7 linked regions of the Homo sapiens genome follow. The protein of the gene in region 4 purifies or fractionates together with the protein of the main gene of each other region. This does not show direct contact. Each region holds a gene or a part of one and is shown on either strand. Other genes may lie near its edges. The genes, in order: ADNP2, NUMA1, SMARCC1, CHD4, ZFHX3, SMARCE1 and USP36.

The links.
Region 1: the proteins of CHD4 (region 4) and ADNP2 purify together in Homo sapiens (affinity purification with mass spectrometry; 3 studies listed by BioGRID and IntAct, with this or other methods). This does not show direct contact.
Region 2: the proteins of CHD4 (region 4) and NUMA1 purify together in Homo sapiens (affinity purification with mass spectrometry; 3 studies listed by BioGRID and IntAct, with this or other methods). This does not show direct contact.
Region 3: the proteins of CHD4 (region 4) and SMARCC1 purify together in Homo sapiens (affinity purification with western blotting; 6 studies listed by BioGRID, with this or other methods). This does not show direct contact.
Region 5: the proteins of CHD4 (region 4) and ZFHX3 purify together in Homo sapiens (affinity purification with mass spectrometry, with the first as the bait; 3 studies listed by BioGRID). This does not show direct contact.
Region 6: the proteins of CHD4 (region 4) and SMARCE1 purify together in Homo sapiens (affinity purification with western blotting; 3 studies listed by BioGRID, with this or other methods). This does not show direct contact.
Region 7: the proteins of CHD4 (region 4) and USP36 purify together in Homo sapiens (affinity purification with mass spectrometry; 3 studies listed by BioGRID and IntAct, with this or other methods). This does not show direct contact.

What each region holds. Positions count from the first base shown.
Region 1 is NC_000018.10:80,126,262-80,129,761, reverse strand, and holds part of ADNP2 (activity-dependent neuroprotector homeobox protein 2), read right to left. Parts: intron 1-3,500. UniProt on the Homo sapiens protein: May be involved in transcriptional regulation. May play a role in neuronal function; perhaps involved in protection of brain tissues from oxidative stress. May be involved in erythroid differentiation.
Region 2 is NC_000011.10:72,007,543-72,011,042, forward strand, and holds part of NUMA1 (nuclear mitotic apparatus protein 1), read right to left. Parts: intron 3,313-3,500; coding exon 3,244-3,312; intron 1,846-3,243; coding exon 1,726-1,845; intron 1,644-1,725; coding exon 1,425-1,643; intron 1,304-1,424; coding exon 1,146-1,303; intron 659-1,145; exon of another isoform or gene 604-658; coding exon of another isoform or gene 550-603; exon of another isoform or gene 1-549. UniProt on the Homo sapiens protein: Microtubule (MT)-binding protein that plays a role in the formation and maintenance of the spindle poles and the alignement and the segregation of chromosomes during mitotic cell division.
Region 3 is NC_000003.12:47,587,332-47,589,893, forward strand, and holds part of SMARCC1 (SWI/SNF complex subunit SMARCC1), read right to left. Parts: intron 976-2,562; coding exon 878-975; 3' UTR 1-877. UniProt on the Homo sapiens protein: Involved in transcriptional activation and repression of select genes by chromatin remodeling (alteration of DNA-nucleosome topology).
Region 4 is NC_000012.12:6,572,981-6,576,379, forward strand, and holds part of CHD4 (chromodomain-helicase-DNA-binding protein 4), read right to left. Parts: intron 290-3,399; coding exon 94-289; coding exon of another isoform or gene 91-93; intron 1-90. UniProt on the Homo sapiens protein: ATP-dependent chromatin-remodeling factor that binds and distorts nucleosomal DNA. Acts as a component of the histone deacetylase NuRD complex which participates in the remodeling of chromatin.
Region 5 is NC_000016.10:72,793,129-72,796,628, forward strand, and holds part of ZFHX3 (zinc finger homeobox protein 3), read right to left. Parts: coding exon 127-3,500; intron 1-126.
Region 6 is NC_000017.11:40,630,819-40,634,318, forward strand, and holds part of SMARCE1 (SWI/SNF-related matrix-associated actin-dependent regulator of chromatin subfamily E member 1), read right to left. Parts: intron 1,550-3,500; coding exon 1,377-1,549; intron 876-1,376; coding exon 774-875; intron 107-773; coding exon 1-106. UniProt on the Homo sapiens protein: Involved in transcriptional activation and repression of select genes by chromatin remodeling (alteration of DNA-nucleosome topology).
Region 7 is NC_000017.11:78,802,815-78,806,314, reverse strand, and holds part of USP36 (ubiquitin carboxyl-terminal hydrolase 36), read left to right. Parts: coding exon of another isoform or gene 1-28; coding exon 29-159; intron 160-2,336; coding exon 2,337-2,930; intron 2,931-3,459; coding exon of another isoform or gene 3,460-3,500. UniProt on the Homo sapiens protein: Deubiquitinase essential for the regulation of nucleolar structure and function. Required for cell and organism viability.

The sequences.
Region 1 (3,500 bases), on a different chromosome or scaffold from region 4:
ATGCACACAAAGACCAGACTGCCATCTATTGTATTGAAGCAACAAAATATGACTGGGGTCCCTGAAGTGACACAAGAAGCATAGAACATCATATATATTCTAGCCCAAAATGTTTAACTTGAATCAACTGGGCCTTTCAGTAGAACTTCTCATTTAAAAGAAGCTCAGGGGACAGGGGACTAAGCTGAAACAACACTATAAGAAAGTACCAGACACATCTGGAAGGAGGGGCATCTCTGCAGGACAAGAGGCTGGTCTGGCCAACAGTCAGGGAAAGCACTGCAAACCCAACCACTAGATGTAACAGGGTCCACAACAAATCCTGGCTTACATAAACCGAGTGTAAAAAATGTTCTGGGGGTCGGGTGTGGTGGCTCACACTTGTAATCCCAGCACTTTGGGAGGCTGAGGTGGCTGGATCATCTGAGGTCTGGAGTTTGAGACCAGCCTGGCCACATGGTGAAACCCCATCTCTACTAAAAATACAAAAACTAGCTGGGCGTGGTGGCGGGTGCTCGTAATCCCAGCTACATGGGAGGCTGAGGCAGGAGAATTGCTTGAACCAGGGAGGCAGAGCTTGCAGTGAGCCGAGATCTCACCACTGCACTGCAGCCTGGAAGACAGAGCGAGACCCCATCTCAAAAAAAAAAAAAAAACAAAAAAAAAGTTCTGGGTAAAACTGAAGAAATCTGAGTATGGACTGCATATTAAATAAGGTGAATATGTAATACATGACAAGACAGAACAGAGAAAAGTGAAAAAAGCAAGTGGTAAAATAGCTAATCAATACAATCTCATGGTAAGAACAATAAACACACAGAAACAGCTAACAATACGATGTTAATGGTGGCAACTTCTGAATGACAGAAATGTGGCATTTTAAATTTCATTTTCTAATTAGAAACGGTTACCTGCATTTTCAAACATTCATAGATTACAGTATTATTTTTATAACAATGATTACTTTAAAAAAAAAGCTACAGAAAAATAGTTAATACAATTACCTTTAACTCTACGCTAGTATGTAGCTTACCAAGTCAATTCAGAACTAACAAGAAAAAGACAAGTTATTACAAATATTTCTTTATTTTTATTTATTTATTTCTTTTTTTGAGACGGGGTCTTGCTCTGTCGCCCAGGCTGGAGTGCAGTGGTGCAATCTCGGCTCACTGCCGCCTCCACCTCCCGTGTTCAACCAATTCTCCTGCCTAAGCCTCCCCACTAGCTGGGACTACAGGCACATGCCACCACGTCGGGCTAATTTTTGTATTTTTAGTAGAGACGGGGTTTCACCATGTTGGCCAGGCTGGTCTCAATCTCCTGACCTCGTGATCCATCCACCTCGGCCTCCCAAAGTGCTGGGGTTACAGGTATGAGCCACCGCACCTGGCCAAGTTATTACAAAGATTTCTACTGAAAATTAGGTTATTTTCAGAACTATCTTAAAAGATAAAGTATACAACACACAGGTCCTTTATTCTGATTCCAACAAAGAGCAAACATATCTGAAACAAACAGAAATAAGCATAAACACTAGGAAACACAAAGGAACTGTCAGTACATCTTCAAAACCAGCACACACAAGAATCTAAGCCCAATTAAAAGATGCTGCTAGAGCAGCAGAAATGAATAAAGAAGGCTGGAATTAACAAGAGCCCCACAGTAATTATGAAGTCATTATCACCTGATAGAAAGCAAGAATTCACTATTTCAAAATAGACAAAAGAAGTAAGCTACTATTAAAAAGGGGCATCCTGCCATATTGACCTTGTGATAAATTTGCACAGGGTCTCCTGAAGACTTTTTCTGAGCACTGAGGCTCTCATGTGTGAGAAAACCAGTGGGACTTTTCTACTGGCTCACTAGTGGGAACTAGTGAAAGGAGAAGGTAAAACAACTATCAAAATGCCAGAGTCCACCGGGAGAGGGGAATGACCCCTTAATACAGTGACATAAGTCAAGCCTTCACAGCAAGGTCTGTCTCCACAGTCCCAGGCTCTCCAGACCCACTCTAGCAATGCTTAAAAATTCCAAGTGTCTTAAACATGTTCTAGAACAAAGCCCAAATATATTTAAAGGAAACAACAAACTCTAGCACCCATAAACACAATGTCCAGTGTGTAGTCAAAAACTGCCAGTCAAAAAACAAAAAACAAAAACTTCCAGTCATACAAAGCAGCAGAAAAATATGACCCCAAACCAGGAGAACAACATGAACGCAACGAGAGAAGTGAAAGAAAGTGAAAGATGGATGGTAAATTGCACTTCCATGAATGAAAAATGCACTAACATGAAAAATATACTGCATGGGATTAAGAGCAGATTAGATGCTGCCGAAGAAAAGACTGGTAAATCTGAAGATAAAGCAAGAGAAATACACAAAATGAAAGAGGGAATGGTTAAAAAAAAAAAAAAAAAAAAACTGAAAAAACCCCAACAACGGCATCAATGAGCTATGGGACAGTATCAAGGAGCCTAATATACAGGAGTCCCCCCTTATCTGCAAAGGACATGTTCCAAGACCCCAGTGGATGCTGACACTGTGGACAGTGCCAAACGCTACATATACTACGTTTTTTCCTATACAGACATACCTACAATAAAATACAACTTATAAATTAGATTTGGTACAGGAAGTTGGTACACGAAGATATTAACAACAATAATAAACTAGAACAATTGTAACAATATACAGTAATAAAAGTTTTGTGAATGTGGTCTCTCAAAGTATCTTACATCCTGTGCTCACCCTTCTTGTGGTGGCATGCGATGACACGATGCCTGTGTGGCGCCTCACGTGACAAGATGAAGACAACTCAGAATGCCATGGAACTTAAAACAGATGAATTGTTTATTTCTGGAATTTTCCATATAATATTTTCAAACCGTGGTTGACTGTGGAGAGCAAAACTGAGGATACGGGGGAACTACTGTGTGTGTAATTGAGTATCAGGGACAAACGGGTGAGGGGAAGAAAAACTAGTTGAAGAAATGATGCCACAAAATTTTCCAAATCTGATGAGAACTATAAACCCACAAAATCAAGAAGCTCACCAGACTCTAAGCAAAAGACACACAAAGAAAACCAAACCAAGGCACATTATAGTCAAAGTATTAAAAATACAGAGAGGAACAAAAATGACAGAAAACATATTGTTGGAAAAAATGCCAGCCAGAAGACAAGAGTGAAATCTTTAAAATATAAAAAGGGGAAAAAAATAGCATTCCACACCTAGCAAAAATCTCTTCCTTCCTAAAAGACAACTTTTTTTTAGAGAGAAAGTATAGTGAGTTAATTAAGCACATCAGCACTACAAAATATGAAGTCCTTCAGGAGGCAGAGGAAATGACTCGAGATGGAAATACACATCTACGCAAAGGGATGAAGACTATCATCAATGACATGTAGATCAATATAATTTTTTTCTTTTTTACAGTTTAAAATAAAAGTAACAACATATTGTAAGATTTCTAACATGTGGAAGAAAAAATGTATAACA
Region 2 (3,500 bases), on a different chromosome or scaffold from region 4:
CAAGCAGCCCATCTCTCTGATTTTTCAGAGGTACCAAGGAAAGCACTTGACCTGGGCCTTCCTTTCAGTCCACTCCCCTGGCTTCTCCTAATAGCTCCTCATAGTGGCAATGCCCAGACCCAGATGTCCCATCCCCACCAGATGCCCATGGCTGCTTCACAGCAAACACGTCCCAATCTAAGCCCACTTCTCTGTTCTTCCTCCTGCATCTCCCATTTCAGTGAATAGGAACGCCCCCCACTCAGGCCCCCAAGCCATGAACGTGGGCATAATCCAATGTCGTCCTGCTTGGCGAGCCCAATCACCAAGCTTCCTGAACAGCTCCTAACCACACCCCACTCCATGCTCATGTCCTTTCCCTGGTCTGCTTCATCTCCTCTCACCTAGACTCATCATGGCACTGACAGAGGAAGATGAGTGGTGACAAGCCAAGAACTCAGGCCAGGCTGCCCAGGGTCAAACCCCAGCTCTACCACTGGGGAACCTTGGGCAAGTGACTGCCCCTCTATGCCCCAGATTCATCTGTTAAAGGAGACAGAATAAACCTACCTCAGAGGGTTGTTGGGGGACAAATCAGGTATAATTGTCATGAGTGCTTTATGTCTAGCACAAAATAAGTAAATGTAAGTGTTTAATAAAAACATTTTTCCAGTCTTAACTTCTATACTAGCTATTAGAATAATCTTTTTAAGATGCAAATTAACCATGTACTCTTCAGTTTCAAATTCTTCCAAGGTTCCTTTTTTTTTCTCCTAAACCTTTCAATTACAGCCACCAAGGTTTCCTCAATGCCTTTAGGATCAAGTCTTAATAGTCGGTCTCCAATGGGCCTTCCTGGCCTCACATCTCAGCTTAGTCAGGCTCTTTCACAGCCTCTGTTCACACTGCTCTTCTCGTCAACCTGGCACACACACCTATGGATGCTTTCAAGACTCAGCAGGAGCGATAGCTTCCACGAAGCCTTTCTTGACCACTTGCTTTTTATTCCAACTGTGCCCTAAATAGATATCTGGTATAATACCCGTTTTTCGTTATTCTTCTCTAAGAATAAATTTAGATCACATCTTATTTATCTCACTAGGATACAGCCTGATAAACAGCAGGCACTCCATAAACAGACATAGGGAGGAAGGCTGCCTCCTGACCTGGTGATACTGAGTGGGGTCCCCTCCTCGCAGCTCAGATCCAGGCTGTCAATACTCAAGTCCAGCTGGGGCTTAGCCTGGGGCTCACGGCTCTTTAAAGCATCAGTTGCCACCTGGAATTTGCCCAGGTCTCGAAGCTGCTGGTCTGCATGGGCAACCTGAGAAGGAGAGGGCCAGGGGGAGAGTGAAGAAAAGCCTAAGGCAGCAGTGGCCTAGGAGGAGAGGGCACAGGGGTCCAGTGGAATAGGAGTGAGGTGAGTCTGCCAGCCAAATTCTTACCTGTGCCTCCAGGCTGCGCACCTGGGCAGTAAGGTGGCGGCAGGTCTGTTCAGCCTCCTTGGTCTTCAGCCCAGCCTGCTGTAGCTCATGGCCCAGCCGTTCAGCTTCAGCTCGCAGCTCTTTGTTTTCCTTCTGCAGCTGCTCCAGGCTCCGCAGCTGCTCCTGCAGCTCTTGGTTCTGCTGCTTCTTGGCATCATAATGTGTTTTGGCTTTCTCCATCTGTGGGCAGAGAGGGTGGGTGGGTGGGGTAGAGGTTGAAGGGCAGGAGGAAGGTGGCATGGGCTGGGGCTGGGCTCCTTACCTGCAGCTTATAGTGCTCAGCTGCCTGCTCCTTCTGGCTCAACTGGGCTTGCAGTTCATTCAGCTGGGCCTGGAGGCGCTGGGCCTCCTGCTGGCTCTCGCCTCCCTGAGCCTGGACAGCCTGAGAAGAAAGGCCACTCAGGAAAGCTGGTCTGGCCGCTCTACCCAAGTCCGCTTATCTGCACCAGCCACTGGGGCTCCACAGGTGCTTCAGACTCCTGCACTTTCTTAGGAAGCGGAAGAAAACCACACCACCCCAAATACTCTCTGCCCGACTACAGTCTACTAAACCTGAAGCCCACATGCCCTTCAGTCCACATCCGTAGTGGCCTTTCCCTGACCAGCTCCTGCCCTATCTTTGCCTTCTTTGAGACCAGACACAAAGTGTCACACCCTCTTTGCATGCACAATCTCCCGTAGGAGGAAGGGAACCAATCCTCAGGGAACACCCAGGTGCAGAGCCTTACTCTAAGGCACTTGGCATGTGAGCTCTCTTAGGACAGGGGAACTTGTTTCTCCTCAAAGCCACTCTGAGAAGTCACTTCACCCTCTTTTCAGAGGAGGAAACTGAGTTCAGAGATTTAAGCAAATTGACCAGAGTAACAGTGACTAAATGGCAGAGTAAGATTTGGTCCACCTAACTCCAAAAGCCCATGGGGGCTTATTTATGATGCCCACACTGCCTCCTGTCCAGACCATAACTCCTTAAGAGCAGGGCCTGATTCTCTGTCCATCTGCAAGGCCAACAAGTGCTTTGCTGTAGATAGAAGCATCCCCCCTTTGCCTCTCCTAACATAGGACAGGCCCCACAAGGAGTAGAATAAACATTTGTTTATTGCAATCAAGACATGCTGTGGCACCATGGTATGAAGGTGAGCAGGAGAAATGAAGCTCTGAGCTCCCAACAACTCCTAGGAGCCACCAGGGCTTTAGTGAGTCCCAATGCCACTGGTGCCCAATTCCTTTGCCCCTGACTGAAGGCTGTGAAGCCTAGAACTGCAAAAAGCAAGTATTAAACCAAAGAAGGTGACACAGTTGAAAGCATTAAGAATGTTATTAAACTGCACTGTAATATTCAACACTGGTGACACTCTCGTTCTTTCCCTGCCCAGACTATCTAGACTTACATTGTCCAAAAGAACTTTATGCAATGGTGGAATGTTCTGTATCTGCGCTGTCCAATACAGCAGCCACTAACCACATGTAGCTACTGAACAGGGGCACAGTGTAGCTAGTGTGATTGAAGAACTGGATTTACTTTAATAAATTTCAATAACCACACGTGACTAGTAGCTGCTGAAGTGGACAGTGACAGTTGAGAGATGGGAACCACCCTGGTTGTCTCTCGAGAGCTCCCAGAAGACACATGCAGGGGCTTCTAAGCCACAGGCTTCCTAGGAGGGCTACCTGGAATGCAGGGTGCCCCTCTTCTGCCCCGACACCCCCCACGGCCCCAGAGCTTAGAGAATAGCTTCCCTCCCTTGTCCAGAGGCCAGACCCATTCCCCCAGCTGCCCCACCTTCAGCTTCTGCTGCTGCACCTTGCTGGCTTGGTCAGAGTCAGCCAGTTTCTTACTCAGTTCTTCCACCTGGGGAGGGAAGAGGAGGACAGAAGACTCAGGAGGACTTCCCCTGGATGTTCATCCTGGATGTCCACCCATCATGGGGTTTCCCAGACCAGGATCCCCAGTGTTCCTAGAATAAACTCAGGCCCTTTCTCTGGCCTCCAATTACGGAACAGCCTGCTGCCCAGGCTGCTTGGCAGGGCCTGAATGAG
Region 3 (2,562 bases), on a different chromosome or scaffold from region 4:
CCTAACTTTCCAGGCTAGTTGAGGAAACTAAGGAATGCCTCCCAATATTCCAACCCTCAAAGCTCACACTGCCCCCAGAAAAACAAAACACTCACCCCCAATCCAATGAATCATCTGCATAGAAAACCAGAGCCAGCAGGCCTAGGGAAGGAGCGGATGTTTGTGCCCTCCTCTAGCACATACTAGTTCAGTGGTATGTTCTGCCAGGCAGTGTGGAGGCCCTCAGAGGCCTCACTAGGGAATAAAATCACTGAGGTTCTCCTTCCACATCTCGTTTAATTTTCACAAATTTGTGTGTGGCAAAAGTCTCAAACTTTACCATCAGCACCATTCTTAGCTCAGAAAAGCAGAAATAAGGTCACTTATAATGCCTTAAGGTTTGTCCCCTGTGGCTATTCCCCCCCTTCTGCCCATCATTATTTTTTGGTTCCTATTAACTTAGGATGCTCTCCTTTAAAACAATAATAACAGAAAGATAAAAAGATAATGATTATATAGCATTATCCATAGAAGCATAAGACAAAGCAAAAAACTGCAAGAGAGCAAAAATGGTAAAGACATAGCATGCTAAAGTTGACAGGACCTGCAGAGAAACTGTCAGCTTACTCCCACACCAGGACAGGGGAGATGCAGGTTATTTTAAGGATGACCAGGGCACACTGTCACTACAGGTTTCCCCTTGAGTGTTGGCTGAGGACCCAACACAAAAAGTGTCAGAGAGAGGGGTGGTAAGAGGAGTGGGGAGGCACGGGACACGTGCTTGGAGCTGTGAGAAGAAAAATCCTGAAAGAAACCCAAGAAAGTTGAGGAACACAAGTCTTGTCATCCCCACTCCAGCTCATGGTGGTGGGCGTGGAGGTTCCCTGCATCTTCCAGGCTAAGGAGCAGCTGAGGCTGGCGGGCCAGGAGCAGGAGGCGGAGGGACCCCATCTGCAGGTGGTGGTGGCGGTGGCTGCTGCTGTGGTGGAGGGGGATCTGCAAACATATCCAAGAGTAACTCGTTATTGCTGGAAATACAAGAGACTCAGGAAAGAGCCTATTCAGTGAAAAAAAGACACAGAAGTCCTTTCCTTAGTGGCAGGCAACCAATGCACCCTGTGAGGCATTGATTCCACTGTGGTCTATGCAAGTCAATTCCTTCTGAACCTCTAGGGCACTGCTCAAGTTGCTTAGCCTAACCCTAGTGGCTGGGGAGTGGGAGGTGTCTGAATTTCCCCCACCCTCCTTCCAGGCCAACTCCTTCCAAGAATCGCTCCAGGCCCTTTCAGAAGTTAATTTTGATTGCATTGTATTTCAAGGGTTCTAATTTTATTTCTTCAGTTAAAAAATAAGCTCCTTCCTGGGACAGTTCTATGTCTTGTTTTTCTTCCCGCCCCCCCCCCGCCCCCACAGTCCCTAGCCTAGCTGGGCACAAAATAGATTATCAATAAATTCTTGCTATATAAATGTCTCCACCAGGGCCAGAGAGCTTCACTTGAGGCAGTTGCTGACAAACTGGATAGTCCAGGGAGGCCTCCACAGCTCCTGAACTGCAGTCCTTCGATTTTTGGCCCAAACTAGGTCATGTCCTGAAGGGAACAATTAGTATGAGTGTCTGGGACTCTTTCCTATTTCAACTTTACCTGCTTTAGTGTACAAAAGAACCCGAGAGATCATTTAATCCGGGTTTTAAAAACCCCTAGATCTTGTCAGAATTGAAAACATATGAAATAAAGTGCAGCATTGCTCACCAATCAATTCACCCAACTCTATGCCCAAGAGGTTTCTACCAAACCCTTAAGACTCTTGAAAGCATTCTGAAGCTCACTGATCTAATCCCTTGTGTCATCTTTCAGTGGAGGAAATGAAGGGCTGAAGTGGAGAAGCAACTCATCCAGTGTGGCCTACCTAGTATCCTAGAACCAATTCACATGGTTCAGAATTCCAGAGCACTGACTTATGGCAGGAACCAGGCAGCAGGTGGGAAGGTTCCACCTGAAACCCTCCACATTCTCAAGGAGCTCTACTGAGGTCCCTTTGGGAAGGAATCCTGAAGTACAAAACATGGGTGACCAGCAGGACATGACAGTGGTAAATTGGTAAAGACCAGTGATACTACCTCTGCAATAGGGATGGAAAACTGGTCAACTCTCTTGATAGGCGAGCTCATTTATGTATGGTCCACAGGGTGGCTTGGCAAACATTTTCTTGCCAAGAAAAAGAGGTACCTACTGTACTACACAACCACTGACCACTAGCTTAAGGGAGATAATTTTAAAAAGTTGTTGTGATCTTATATACCTAGATAAATTAGTGTCTTTCTTCTGTGCACCTACTTTGTCCCAGACTCTGGGGGCCAGAGAAGAGTCAGACATGTCTCTGTCCATGAAGCCTCCCAGAGTATTAGAGTGTACTTAAGGCACATCACAGTCTCATGTAACCTTTGGTAAGTTCTATATGCCTTCATTTGCTAAGTTCTATCCAAGTTTTCATTTCTTGTTTTCTCAACTAAAGCTCCTACAGAGCAAGAATTCTTATGCTTCCTATCTCTCTGAACTATAAATAGTAGCTAAACTTTTGGCC
Region 4 (3,399 bases):
AGCTCTGAAAGTTTGAAAACAAATATATGTACATTAGGATGCAGTCAGATCAGGGAGGCCGAATCGGCAGGAGGCAGGGGAGCCACTGGCTACCTTTGTGCAGGACTGCATTGGCTGGCTTGTTTCCTGCCATTGACTCCTTGGACAGGTGCTGATGACTTTCCGCCAAACACTCCACCTCAGCAAAGCGGGTGTTGAGGGCCATGGAAGGGTGAGAAGGGTCTTCTGACATGTTCAAGTAAGCAGCCCGGCGCAGCTGTTCCTCAATCACCAGAGCTTGTTCTAAGAGCTGGACAAGGGATAAGAGGAAACGGGAGTTCGACTGATAACTCACTTTACTCACTTCTGACTGGCCTCTCAGCTCACCTCTCATTGTTTCAGATGGTAATAAGAACCTATGAAGAACTTCATGGACAGCTCATTCCCACACCCAAGTAGTTTAACTTTGCCTTGTAACTTTTTTCTTTCCCTTTTTCAATGTCCTCATTTTTAAAACTCTTTACCCTTTAGGTTCTCTTATACAAAAGCGATAAAAACTCAATTTAGAAAATAGAATATCAAAAATTTTTAACAACAGATAATCCCACCTTCTAGAAATACATCCTGATATTTTTCTTTTTAGGTTTTTTTGTGCATAGTTTTTTACATAACTGAGATCATACTATATACATACCCATATTATGTTTTCATTTAGTTACACAGTTAAGCATCTTCCTTTTTATCATCTACTCTTTATCAACTACTCTTCAAAAACATGTTTTGGCTGGGCACGGTGGCTCACACCTGTAATCCCAGCACTTTGGGAGGCTGAGGCGGGCAGATTACTTGAGGTCAGGAGTTCAAGACCAGCCTGGCCAACATGACAAAACCCCGTCTCTACTAAAAACACAAAAATTAGCCAGGTATGGTAGTGCGCACCTGTAACTGCAGCTACTCAAGAGGTTGAGGCAGAAGAATGCTTGAACCCGGGAGGCAAAGGTTGCAGTGAGCCAGGATCGCGCCACTACACTCCAGCCTGAGTGACAGAGGGAAACTGTCTCAAAAAAAAAGGGGTTATTTTGCTATTTAAAAATATTTTTGTTTTTTATTTCCTCTTATCGCCATCTCACTCCCATTCCTCTGAAAAGCAACTTTTCTAATGTAGTAATACTGTGGCTTTTTGTGTAGGTTTTTAAAAACTGTTTCTGTTTCCTATGTATGTTTCTAAGTTACAGAATGATGTTTTCTGTATCTATAAAATGCTTTTTCTTCTCCCACTACATACCTTTTAAAAGGTACTCTTATGTTGTATGCACATGAATTTTGTTGCTTCTGTTGTTTAATGCCCCATGATATGAATACATGTTTCACCTATGCATTCTCCTAATGCTGAACATTTATGTTGCCTCTAGGCCCCCACCACCAAAAATCATACTGCAAAAACACTCATGCACATGTCATCTGATGGAGCTGTATTAAAGATTCTTTGAAATATATCCCAAGAGGCAGAATGTTGGTTCTTAATTTATGAAAAGATTTTAATTACTTAAAAAATATATTCATAAAACATATGACTCAACATAAGAGAAGATTTCTCATACCCTTCTCCTCTCCTAGTGTCAGCCAGCAGTTCTATGCAGATGATTTGATGCTTCTCAAACATGTACCTTCAGCACTGGTTCTGATCCCACTAGTGTATGGTGATGGGGGTCGGTAGTGGGAGGGGTGCTGATTTGTGAGAAATACCAAAAGACTTGTCTAAAATTCGATATCATTCTTTTCTACAAACTGCTCCCTCTCTTCTTAAATGACAATTTAACTTTCTCAGTGACTCAGGCTCAAAATGTTATTTTCAGTCTCACTCATTCTGTACCTCAAATCCAGTAAGTCAGGAGTTGGCAAGCTACAGCCTGTGGGCCAGATCTGCCCCACCACCTGTTTTTATATGGCTCAAGAGCTAAGAATGGGTTTTACATTTTAAAATGGTTGGCAAAAAGTCAAAACAAGACTATTTCATGCCACTTCATGAGAATTATACAAAATTCAAATTGTAATATCCATAGATGAAACGCTGAAACACATCCTAACTTATTCATTTATGTATCCCCTGTGGCTGCTTTCACACAACAAAGATGGAGTTGAGTATATGCAACAGAGACTACATGTCCCACAAAGGGACTATCTGGCCCTTTAATAGAAAAGGTGTGGTTGGGTGCAGTGGCTCACACTTGTAATCCCAGCACTTTGGGAGGACAAGGCGGGCAGATCACCTGAGGTCCAGAATTTGAGACCAGCCTGGCCAATATGGCAAAACCCCATCTCTACTAAAAATACAAAAATTAGTCAGGCATGGTGGTACATGCCTGTAATCCCACCTACTTAGGAGGCTGAGGCAGGAGAATCGGTTGAAGCCAGGAGGCAGAGGGTGCAGTGAGCCAGGAAATGTCGCCACTGCACTCCAGCCTGGGCAACTGAGTAAGACTTTGTCTCAAAAAAAAAAAAAAAAAAAGGGTTTTATTAACCGTTTTTGGTTTGGGGGGAGAAAAAAAGGTTTGCTGACCCCTACAGTAAGTCACTAAGTCCAATAAATTCTTTGGTGTTGTTTCCTTTATCTTTACCCTTTTCATTTTCCACAACCAGCATCACAGCCCAGACCCTTAACACCTCATGATTATATGACAGTTTTATAATCTTATGAATGCTGTTTCCATTTCCCTTGGTCCTATCAAAACTCTGCTCACAAACTTTCAGTGGCTGCCCATTAACGATAGCGTAAAGTCCAAACTCTCTTATCTGGTGCCAAGAACCCACCTACTGACCTCTAGCCCGTCCACCTTTCTCGTTCCAACCTACCTCCCACCATCACCCAACACAAATGTTTCCCTACAGCTCAACTGGGCTATCTGCTATTTCCAGACATACTAAGCTTTGCTGGCTCACATCTTTGCCCAACCTAATCCCTTTGTTCAGATACCCTTCTGTTTCTACCAAAAAAATCTCCGTCGCATTCTTCAAAACTTCATTCCAATGCCATCTTCTCCATAAAGCCATTTGTGAGTTCCGTCCCTACTCCAATTCCCTCTCGAGAACTTTTTTTTTTTTTTAAGACAGGGTCTTGGATGGGCACAGTGGCTCACGCCTGTTATCTCAGCACTTTGGGAGTCCGAGGCGGGCAGAACATGAGGTCAAGAGATCGAGACCATCCTGGCCAACATGCTGAAACCCTGTCTCTACTAAAAATACAAAAATTAGCTGGGCGTGGTGGCACACGCCTGTTGTCCCAGCTACTCGGGAGGCTGAGGCAGGAAAATCGCTTGAACCCGGGAGGCAGAGGTTGCAGTGAGCAGAGATCTTGCCACTGCACTCCAGCCTGGCAACACATCAAGACACTGTCTCAGGAAAAAACAAAACAAAACAGGG
Region 5 (3,500 bases), on a different chromosome or scaffold from region 4:
TTAAAGAACTAGAAAGGTAAGCTTCCCATCTGCCCAGCACTCAGAGGGTTTGGGTGGTATCCACATAACAGAATGCTGACTGGGCAGCTATTTAGCCCTGAAACAATCGCCTAGAGCAGAACCCACCTGTGTTGGATGGAGTAAAGCCTGGCAAGGAGGGGCTGTTGAGGCCCGGGAGCAACACAGGAGGAATGCCCTGGAGCGCTGGATATGCTGTAGGAAGGTTAAGGGCCTGAAGAGGGGTGTTGTCAAACATCCCTTGCTGCTGAGCTGCCAGTCCAAGGACCTCGTTGGCCTTTTTAATCCGGTCCAACTCTTGTTGAGCCATCAACTGACGTACGGTGGCTGGGTCAAAGTATTCTTTCTCCTTGTCCAGCTGGCTTCCAATGGTGTCTTTAACTTTGGAGATATGCTGTTGGGAAAAGATATGGTCACGTACAGACAGCCGAGCGCTGTACTTGATGCCACACAAAGTGCACTCTGTTTTGGGTCCCTCATAACTCGTTTGGTTTATACCAAAATGCTTGGCCATGCTTAACTTGGACTTCTTTTCTTTTGCCCGGGCATTCTGGAACCAGACCTGAACGACTCTCTTTGGCAGTCCAATGTCATTGCCCAGGACCTCACATTCTAGCATAGTGGGTGTCCTGTAGTCATTAAAGCATGACTTGAGGACCTTCAGCTGCAGATTGGTCATTTGAGTGCGAAAACGTTTCTGCCCAGGCCGATCTCCGCTGTCACCAGATTTGCCTGCAGATCCACTCGCACCAGGACTCGGGGAGCAGGGATCTGCAAGGCTTGAGGTTTCACTGTAGTCCACTGTACCTTCATTGTCATATTCCTTGCTATAAAAGCTCGGGGCCGGGCTGACCAGACCAGATGACAACCGATCTTCATACTCAGACATTGCCATCATGGCCGCTTTGGTCAACCCTTCGTTGGGTGCAGAAGAGGATTTGGTTTCAGTTGCTATTCCCGTTGCACTGTCGTTATCTGCGTTGCCCTCGTCTCCAGTTGTGGTATCTGTGATTGCTGTGTTGACAGAGGAACAGTCATCGTTGTCCAGCTTAGTTTGGTCAAAGTTTAGATTAACTGAGGACATGGAGGGGCTTTCAAAGTCTTCAATCCCTTCCACCTTAATGGAGGAAGGGCTTAGAAGAGTTCTGGGTGACAATTCCATGGTTTTACTCACAGGTGAGAGGGGGACACCCTGACCATCACTACTGCTTGGGGGTAGGTGGGAAAAGCTAGTTCCGTCAAAAATATCTCCTTTCATCTGGAGTCCCCCATCACAGTCTAAGAGCATCGCAGACAGAGTTAGGTTGTAGCCAGCTCTCTTGGCTTCATGCCAGTGACGGGACCGGATATGAGCCTCAAGAGCAGTCTTGGCTTTGAAGAGCGCTCTGCAAAAAGGGCATCTCCTGTGGGCCTGCGCTGGGCCTACAGCCCGGAACTGTCCTTTCCTTTCCCGAGCTCGGGTGTTCTGAAACCAGACTTGTACCACACGTTTCTTCAAGCCCACCTCGTGTGCAATGTGATCCAACATCTTTCGAGTCGGATTGGAATCCAGTAGATACTTCTGGTAGAGAATTTCTAGTTGTTCCGGTGTGATGGTTGTTCTCAAACGCTTGTCTCTCTGAGGCTCTTCTCCTCCTGTCCCACTGTCGTTTTCGCCAGGGCTTGCACTGGCCTTTTCCTCCAGCTTCCTCTTGAGAGTGTTCATTGTGGAGGTTGGAGTTGAAGGAGAAGTGGCTGAGCTTGCTGGAATCTGAGGTATGGCCCCAGAGAGCAGCTGGCTGGCCAGGAGTGGGTTACTGGGATCAAAGAGCATGAAAGGCATATCCAGGGACCTGTCCAAAAACTGGGGGTGGATGAACTGGTTCTGCGCGCTCAGGAAGTGGAGCTGCTGATGCTCCTGCCAGTGCTCAAATGACGGAAATGCCAACTTACACTGGTCACACTGGTAGGGGATTAGCTGAGGAGGTAGGTTTGCGAGCTGTTGAGGAGTTGATGTGTGGAGGGGCTTGAGGGGCAGGTGGGAGAGCTGGGAAGGACTGGGGCTCGACTGGGGTAAGGGGCACTGTGGAGGGGGCGCTTGTGGAGGAGGCTGTGGCAACGAAGGCAGGGACACCAGCTGGGGGAGCTTCTGCTGGGGAGTGTTGGTCTTCTGCTCGGGCTGCTCTTGCTGCTGCAGCTCTGGCTTTGGTTGTCCTTGCTTTTCTTGGGTTTGGTTTGGCTGTGCACTGGGAGCTTCCGCCAGCTTTGGTTTCTCATCGCCTGCCTCTGTTTTTGAATTGAAGGTGGCCAGTTCCTCAGCCTCCGCTGTAAGCTGCAAGAAAGCGGAGGAAGCTGTATTATTGGCTGATGGTGCTGGGGCGCTGTAAGCCTGTGAGGGCATCGGGGTACTGCAGGATGAGCTGGTAGGCGTCAGGATTTCCATGGCATCCATGGAATCCTCATTTTGGCTGTCGTCCTGCCCCTCCTCATCCTCATCCTTGTAACACAGCTTCTTCTGGTGCTTGATGAGATCAAAGATGCGCTGAAACACCAGGCTACATTTTTTGCACTGGTAGTTCAAGTTGCTTGTTCGAATGTATCTATCATTTGTAAGCTCACGCCGCTCTCCATCTTTGCCCTCTCCCTGATTCTCATAATTCTTCCTGGCCTTCTGTCGGGCATTCTGAAACCACACCACTATCACTCGGGTTGGAAGGTTCAGTAAATTAGAGAGTTGCTCAAATTCATCATCCTTTGGGTAAGCATTGGCATCGAAGAAGTCCTGTAAGACCCTCAGCTGGTAGTCCGTAAACCTTGTTCTTGAAGACCTCTTGCTTCCCCAGTACTCCTGCTTTGGAGGTTCCGGCGAAGGGGGCCGGGAGTCAATCTTGAGCTCCTCCAGGCTGGTGATAGGAGGATTACTGAAGTTGTAAGGGGAGTCCTTGTTACGCTGCCTCTCTTTGAAGAGAGTGTTCCTGAACCAGTGCTTGATCACTTTCTGGGGCAACCCGGACTTGTCTGCCATCTCTTTTATTTGCTCTTCACTGGGGGAGTTGTTAATGTCAAAATATTGCCGCAAGACTCGGAGCTGATCATCTGTGATCCTGGTGCGAGGCCTCTTGTTCTGCTGCTGGAGCAGGGTTGGATTGAGCTGATGCTGGTAGAGTTGGGCCAGGTCCGCAGGCAGAGGCTCCACAGGTCCCAGCTGCGGGGGTAGCTGAGCCGGCAAGGTCTGCAGCGGCATCGTCTGCATCATCAGCGGCGAGAAGATGGGCAGCTCCATCGGCATGGAGAGCTGGGTGAGCGGCACTGATGGCTGGGCCGGTGCAATTGTAGGTGAGGTGATGGGTGGGGCTGATGCGGGGATGGCTGGTGTGGACGCCGGCTGAGGCGGCGCTGCCGGAAGTGGGGGTGGAGGGGGTGGAGGGGGAGGTGGTGGTGGCTCTGGGGTCTGGGGCCTCAGTGGGTACAGTTTATCGTAGTGGTCTCTGTACTGTTTGGCA
Region 6 (3,500 bases), on a different chromosome or scaffold from region 4:
CGGCCTCCTTCTCCCTTTCCTCCTGCCTTTTGCGGGCCTGTTCCTCTGCCTGTGCAATCTCAGCTGCAATTTTCTCCATATCCACTTCTACTTTCAGACCGCACAACTAATCAGAAAAAAACAGAACTCCGTAATGTTTTTTCCTTATAATTTTTGAGCCAGATATATTCTTTCAAAAGTTGGTTTTCTTGCCTATAAACTATATATATATATCTATACACCTGTATGTGTGTGTGTGTGTGCCAAAAAAATGTGGTTCTAGGTCTTCTCTGAAACTCTTGGGTCTACAAGAAAAAACAGCAGCTCTAGCAGTTGTATAATATAGGATATTCCAGAGCAGCTGGTGAGGCAAAATAGTGAAAGTTCTGGGGTATACATAAGGCTTCCGTTTTACATTTTGGGCTACCAACTAGATTTCCTTGTCTGAATGCAAAGTGCAAATTATAAATTACATTTAATGACGACATTTGATGAATAAATCACAATAAAATGAAAGTAATTAATGACTGTATGGGAGTTTAACATATCAGAGGGCTCTAGCATTTACAGGCCTAGAAGATATGTGTATACTCTATGATATTTCAAATTTATTGCAATTTTGCCAGAGAATGGGAACAATCTTATAAAAAAAGGATCCTACAGGTTTATAATAAAGTTAGCCCTGTTTCAAAGTGAACAACATTCAATAAAAACACTATTTTGGAAAAAAGAATGAGGAAAAATAAAGTAACAGGTATAGTGATAAAAGTATAGTTAACATATTAAACAGATACCCTTTTAAGTTCATTGTTAAATGAATCTGTGCTTTCCAGGAATTTCCTCTTCTTCTCCTGGTGTCGTTCCTCTATTTGAAGAAGTTCAGCTTCTAGTTTTCGCTGCAAGACAGGATCAGGCTTCATAATTGTGTCTCATTTTTTAATGGTCCATACTTTCAAACAGTGTACCAAATAATGTTTTGAACTTTAGATCATTTATCACATGAGTCTAGCTAAGATTTAAAAAATACAAAATGCAGCACAAAGAAATGATTATGATCAATAGGTAAATGTTAAAGAATACTGTTTCAGGCCTGAGCAATTCCTTGGGAAAAAATATTTAGCATAGCAGTAAAGATTGATAGGATGCCTCAAAATTCTTAAGTTCACACGTATTTCTTAACGAATATACTTTCCATTACAAGGTTCTATATTATAGTTTTTAATGACAAACTTATTAAACATCTGGGAAAGGTCCACTTCCTTAAACCTCTTCTCCAAATCAGGAACAGGTTAGATTGACATATTTAACAGGTAGATTTAGGCATGGTGTAGGAATCATATCACCTGGGATTTGTGGTATAGGCACATCTTATTGAAATGAATGTTTTATGACTTTACCTGATGAACCATTAAGGACTGGACCTGCCGTTTGAGGACCTGCATTCTAGCTGTTGTGACAACTGACCGAACGTCTGGCACCACACTCTCACTAAGAATTTCACTGATGAGGCGGTGGTTTCTCTGGAAACGGGCGGTGGCTGTATGCTTCATTGAAAAGCCATCATCATAATCTGGAGTGAACAAATTGTTCTGGAAATCAGGTCACCAGTAACCATAAAAAGGAGTGTAACAATGTTAACACTTAATTACCAACGAACTATGGCCCTCACTGGCCTAACAAGTGGACCTGCCCAGCGTCATGGGAGCACTGGGGCAGTTACTTGATAAAAACCATACAGAGGACGTAATGTGTTCATTGGCCAAGGTAGTAATTTATCTCACAGTCTTTAAGTGATAATGTTGTGTCTGAGAAGGATTTGGCTAAAACATAAACGAGATACAACATGTCTCTTCTGGCTTCGGAATCAATGTGAAGGCTGTATGTGATGGCAGTAATTGAAATTCTGCCCAATGTTTCACTCTCTTGGTAGTAACTTAAGGCATTTAACAACTAATGAACAACATATGAACTGGGCAGTGACTTTGTCACTTGTAGCACTTTAAAAATGAATGAAAATGCCCATTTGTAAAATTATGACAGCAGAGAATACATCACCTCTAACAATATTCAGTTTCCCAGGCCCTCAAGTAATTTTATAGAAGAAAAATAAATGTCTGATTCCAAATTTAATTTTTGTCAGTTTACACTTAGCCAGCTGTTGTCAGTGTGTAATGGTATGACCCAAGTTCATACAGTATGGGTCTGGTTTATATGCTTCTGTTTCGTTTTGAGACAGAATCTCCCTCTTGTTACCCAGGCTGGAGTACAGTGGCCCAGTCTCAGCTCACTGCAACCTCCACCTGCCAGGTTCAAGTGATTCTTGTGCCTCGGCCTCCCAAGTAGCAGGAATTACAGGCGCATGACACCACGCCCGGCCAATTTTTGTATTTTTAGTAGAGATGGGATTTCACCATGTTGGCTAGGGTGGTCTTGAACTCCTGACCCCATGTGATCTGCCCATCCTGGCCTCCCAAAGCGCTGGGATTACAGGTGTGAGCCACTGCACACACACTACAGGCTTATTTTTAATAGCTATCTAGTGTTTCCTTAATCTCAGTCTTTGCTCTATCACCTTCATAGTTTTTCATATATCTACTAACAGCCTGTACTATCGTTTACTTAATATTTTTCTTTAAACTAACTCACTTAAAAAAAAAAAGAGCTTTCTCTTTAGTAATACATATTAAAACAAACGCTCCTCTCTGAACCACTTAATCACCTCAGTGACCCACCAGACAGGGAGGAACCACACTTAAGAAAACCTTGTTACAGGGGAAACCCTGTTACAGAGGCCTATGTTGCGCTGCTATGTCAGTTTAGCACCTCCCTTATTGTCTGGCACTTAAGTAGTTCCTAAAATTCTCATTATTATAAATACTACAGCTAAAAACTGTTGTTTTTGTAAAAAGTTAAAAAAATTACTTTTGTTTCCTTTTGAGTAATTTCTTTAGGAAATAAACTTCTGAAATTAAAACTACTGGGTAAGATACAGTTTTTTTAAAACTCTGTAACCTTTCTACTTTTTAAGAGTTTTTCACCTTTAGGGTTATATATGGTACATCTGTGCTACATCTGTCTAAGTTATCTGTTTTTGTTGTTAGCTTTTGTTTTCTTCTTTCATTTATATGGCCCCAGTGTTGACCACAGATGGGGACATAAGGTCTAAGCAATTTGGGCTTGTTCTTCTTTGCATGTTAGTCGTCTGCTTCCTTTTTTGGGGGAATGGCTTCTCTGGTTATGATCTAATTGAACAGCTATTTATCCTATGATGAAGAGGCTCTCACTGAATAAAAGCCTTCATTGTCTTGTGTGGATAATTGCACATGCCCTCTTTTTTTTTTCTTTTTTTTGAGACTGGTTATTGCCCTGTCATCCAGGATGGAGGACAGTGGCATGATCATAGCTCACTGCAGCCTTGAACTCCTGGGCTCAACTGATCCTCCTACCTCAGCCTCAGCTGGAGTAGCTGGGACTACAGGCACAAGCCGCCATGCCCAGCTAATTTTTAAGTATCCTGTAGA
Region 7 (3,500 bases), on a different chromosome or scaffold from region 4:
AAGTTTTTATTTATGTCGATAACTGCAGGCCAGCACCCTGTGGAGGGCGACCGGCAATGACCTCCGTCCACCTCCCCCCTCACCATCCTCCGACCTCACCCACCCCATGAAAACCTCTCACCCCGTCGTTGCCTCCACTTGGCCCGTCCATAGAGCCAGGTAAGCTTTGGGCCGGGATCTTCTGGGTGCCAACTGGTTCTCCCTGTGGTTGCGTGTGCTTGGCTGGTGAGGAGTTGGACGAATCGCCAACCTCACAGGACAGACAAAGCATTGGGGCAGCCAGGAGGTACAGGGGGGCGTCACTGACCAAGATCCCCCTCTTCTGTGTTCCCCTGTGGTAAAGGAGCTTTGGGTGGTGAAGGCAGTTCGGCCTCTGCAGTCCTGATGTCTTAGTTCTGTCTTTGTTGGTGGTCTGTCTGCGACATCCTTGTGGTGATGTGGTGTGCTGGGGACTGACCTGTCCTGTATCCCTACCAGCCCCATGACAGTACTTCCCAGTCGAAGAGAAAGGCGAAGTGAGGCCTTGGCGAGAGGCTTGAGTGAGCTCGGAGTCCCGAGCGTTTTTTGTGGGACGTCTTGCCTGCTAGCGTCATGCAGGTTAAGAACTGTCTCAGGGCTCTCGGGTTCCTCTGCAGACACCTGCCAGAGATGCAGCCCCTTCCCTGTGCATGTGGGCCCTGGTCCGCAGGGGCTGCCTGCGTCTCTTAGGTGCCTCGAGTGGCAGGAAGTTGAGAGTAACTGGTAAATGGCTGTCTGGAAGCCGCTGGGAGTGGGGACGGAAGCAGTGAAAGATGGGGTGAGTCATGAGGCGGCCTGCGGGGACTGTACTGGTGGCCTCGGCGCTGGGTTCTAGTTCTAGAATCTCCAGTGCTACATGAGGGCGAGGTATGACTGTGCGTCGCCCACAGCCTCTGCCTTACTCTCCTCTCACATATACACACACAAGCACACCTCTGCCCTATACCTAGCATAAGATTTGTGTACGTGGGAGGGCCTTAAGTGTTTGGGTGTTTTTCGTTTCTTGCCTTATAAGCTTTTTTGGAAAAGATTCCAGAAGACACTTAGAGTAATCAAACATCGTGCAGCTGGCATGGCCCTTATAGTTTGTTTAGATGATGACGGGGGTCCTGTTTTCTGCAGGAACCCTGGGAGGTGGGCTTTGTGGTCCCAGCTCATTGACAAATGAGAACATGGTGGTTCAGAGTGGGAAGTTAATTTTCCTAGAGACACATAGCTGGCAAGAGGGAGCCTCACTGGGTTCGGCACTAGATCCTGTCCCGGACACGCCTTGCTCATGATTCTGCTCTACGCATCTGTGTCCCGGTTTCAGCGTCCTAATGACGGTAATGTGGAGGTGTCATTAGGCCAGCTCAACACTTGCTTTCCTTATGAGGCTCATTTCCTGCCCGGGAACACCCTGAGACTTTCGGAGGTTGGAAAATAAATCCTCACGGGATCTTTTTTTTCCTTACCATTTATTGTTTCGTGAAGGTTTCCTCCCTTAACACATTTGTATTAAAGATGTTTTTACATTAGAGCTCGCAAAAATACTTGAATTGCTTGGTGACAAGAAACTAAGGCATGGAACAATTCTTATTAACTTTGCCTTTTAAAAAAAAAAAAATTTTTTTTTTGACTTTTAAAATCACGTGTTGGCTTGCTTTTTTTTTTTTTTTTTTTTTTTTTTTTAAATCTCAGGGATCAGTTATTTTAAGTTCCAGGGTACATGTGCAGGATGTAAAGGTTTGTTACAGAGGTGCCATGGTGGTTTGCTGCACCTATCAACCCACCACCTAGGTAACTTTGTTTTTTTTTTTTTGTTTTTGTTTTTGTTTTTTTGGTTTTTTTTTTTTTTGAGACGGAGTCTTGCTTTGTCGCCCAGGCTGGAGTGCAGTGGCGCGATTCGGCTCACTGCAACCTCCACCTCCCAGGTTCAAGCGATTCTCCTGCCTCAGTCTCCTGACTAGCTGAGATTACAGGCGTGTGCCACCACGCCCGGCTAATTTTGTATTTTTAGTAGAGATGGGGTTTCACCATGTTGGCTAGGCTGGTCTCAAACTTCTGACCTCAGGTGATCCAGCCACCTTGGCTTCCCAAAGTGCTGGAATTATAGGCATGAGCCACTGTACCTGGCCAACTTTGCATTTAAATAGATGTTGAATTAATTGTTAGCTTTCTTTCAAACATACATGTAACTTAATGTGTATCTGAAAACTACAGGGTAAAAGCCTTTTCAGATTTTTAGGTGAAAGGGAGGGGAGTGAGGGTAGACAGAAGGAACAGCTCTGCTGGGTCTTTCAGAACATCCTCTCCCTGTTTCCTGGCTGTCCCCACAGGGCTGTGTCACCTGCTCCCCAATCATCCAGCCGCCTGCAACCCCCCTTCAGCCCCCACCCCACATTGCTGTCCAGTACCCCCAAGCCCCCAGGGACGTCAGAACCACGGAGCTGCTCCTCCATCTCGACGGCGCTGCCTCAGGTCAACGAGGACCTTGTGTCTCTTCCACACCAGTTGCCAGAGGCCAGTGAGCCCCCCCAGAGCCCCTCTGAGAAGAGGAAAAAGACCTTTGTGGGAGAGCCGCAGAGGCTGGGCTCAGAGACGCGCCTCCCACAGCACATCAGGGAGGCCACTGCGGCTCCCCACGGGAAGAGGAAGAGGAAGAAGAAGAAGCGCCCGGAGGACACAGCTGCCAGCGCCCTGCAGGAGGGGCAGACACAGAGACAGCCTGGGAGCCCCATGTACAGGAGGGAGGGCCAGGCACAGCTGCCCGCTGTCAGACGGCAGGAAGATGGCACACAGCCACAGGTGAATGGCCAGCAGGTGGGATGTGTTACGGACGGCCACCACGCGAGCAGCAGGAAGCGGAGGAGGAAAGGAGCAGAAGGTCTTGGTGAAGAAGGCGGCCTGCACCAGGACCCACTTCGGCACAGGTAAGGGCAGGAGCAAAGTGGCATCTGTCTACCTCTGACGAGAAACAAAGCAAAACCACAGAATCTACCCCCAAGTAGGTATGGTCTGGAAACGTAGTCTGCTTGCGTGGTTTTCTAAAATGTGGATTTGTGATCAGATGTCTCCTCTGGCTGGGTGTGGTGGCTCACACCTGTAATCCTAGCACTTTGGGAGGCTGAGGCGGGTGGATCACTTCAACCCAGGAGTTTGAGACCAGCCTAGGCAATATGGAAAAGCCCTTTCTCTACCAAAAACAAAAATTGGTTGGGCATGGTGGCATGCACCTATAGTCCCAGCTACTCAGGAGGCTGAGGTGGGAGGATGGTTTGAGCCCAGGAGGTGGAGGTTGCAGTGAGCTGAGATCGCGTCACTGCACTACAGCCTGGGTGACAGCTAAACCCTGTCTAAAAAAAAAGAAAAAAGAAAAAATATCTCCTCTGATAAATACCAGTGGATTGATCCTTGAAGCGACAGTGGTGTGGACAGTAGTGTCCATCATTGTATGTGCAGGGCCGTTCAAGGATGCTGGATCAGGTGTCCCGGGCCAGGCC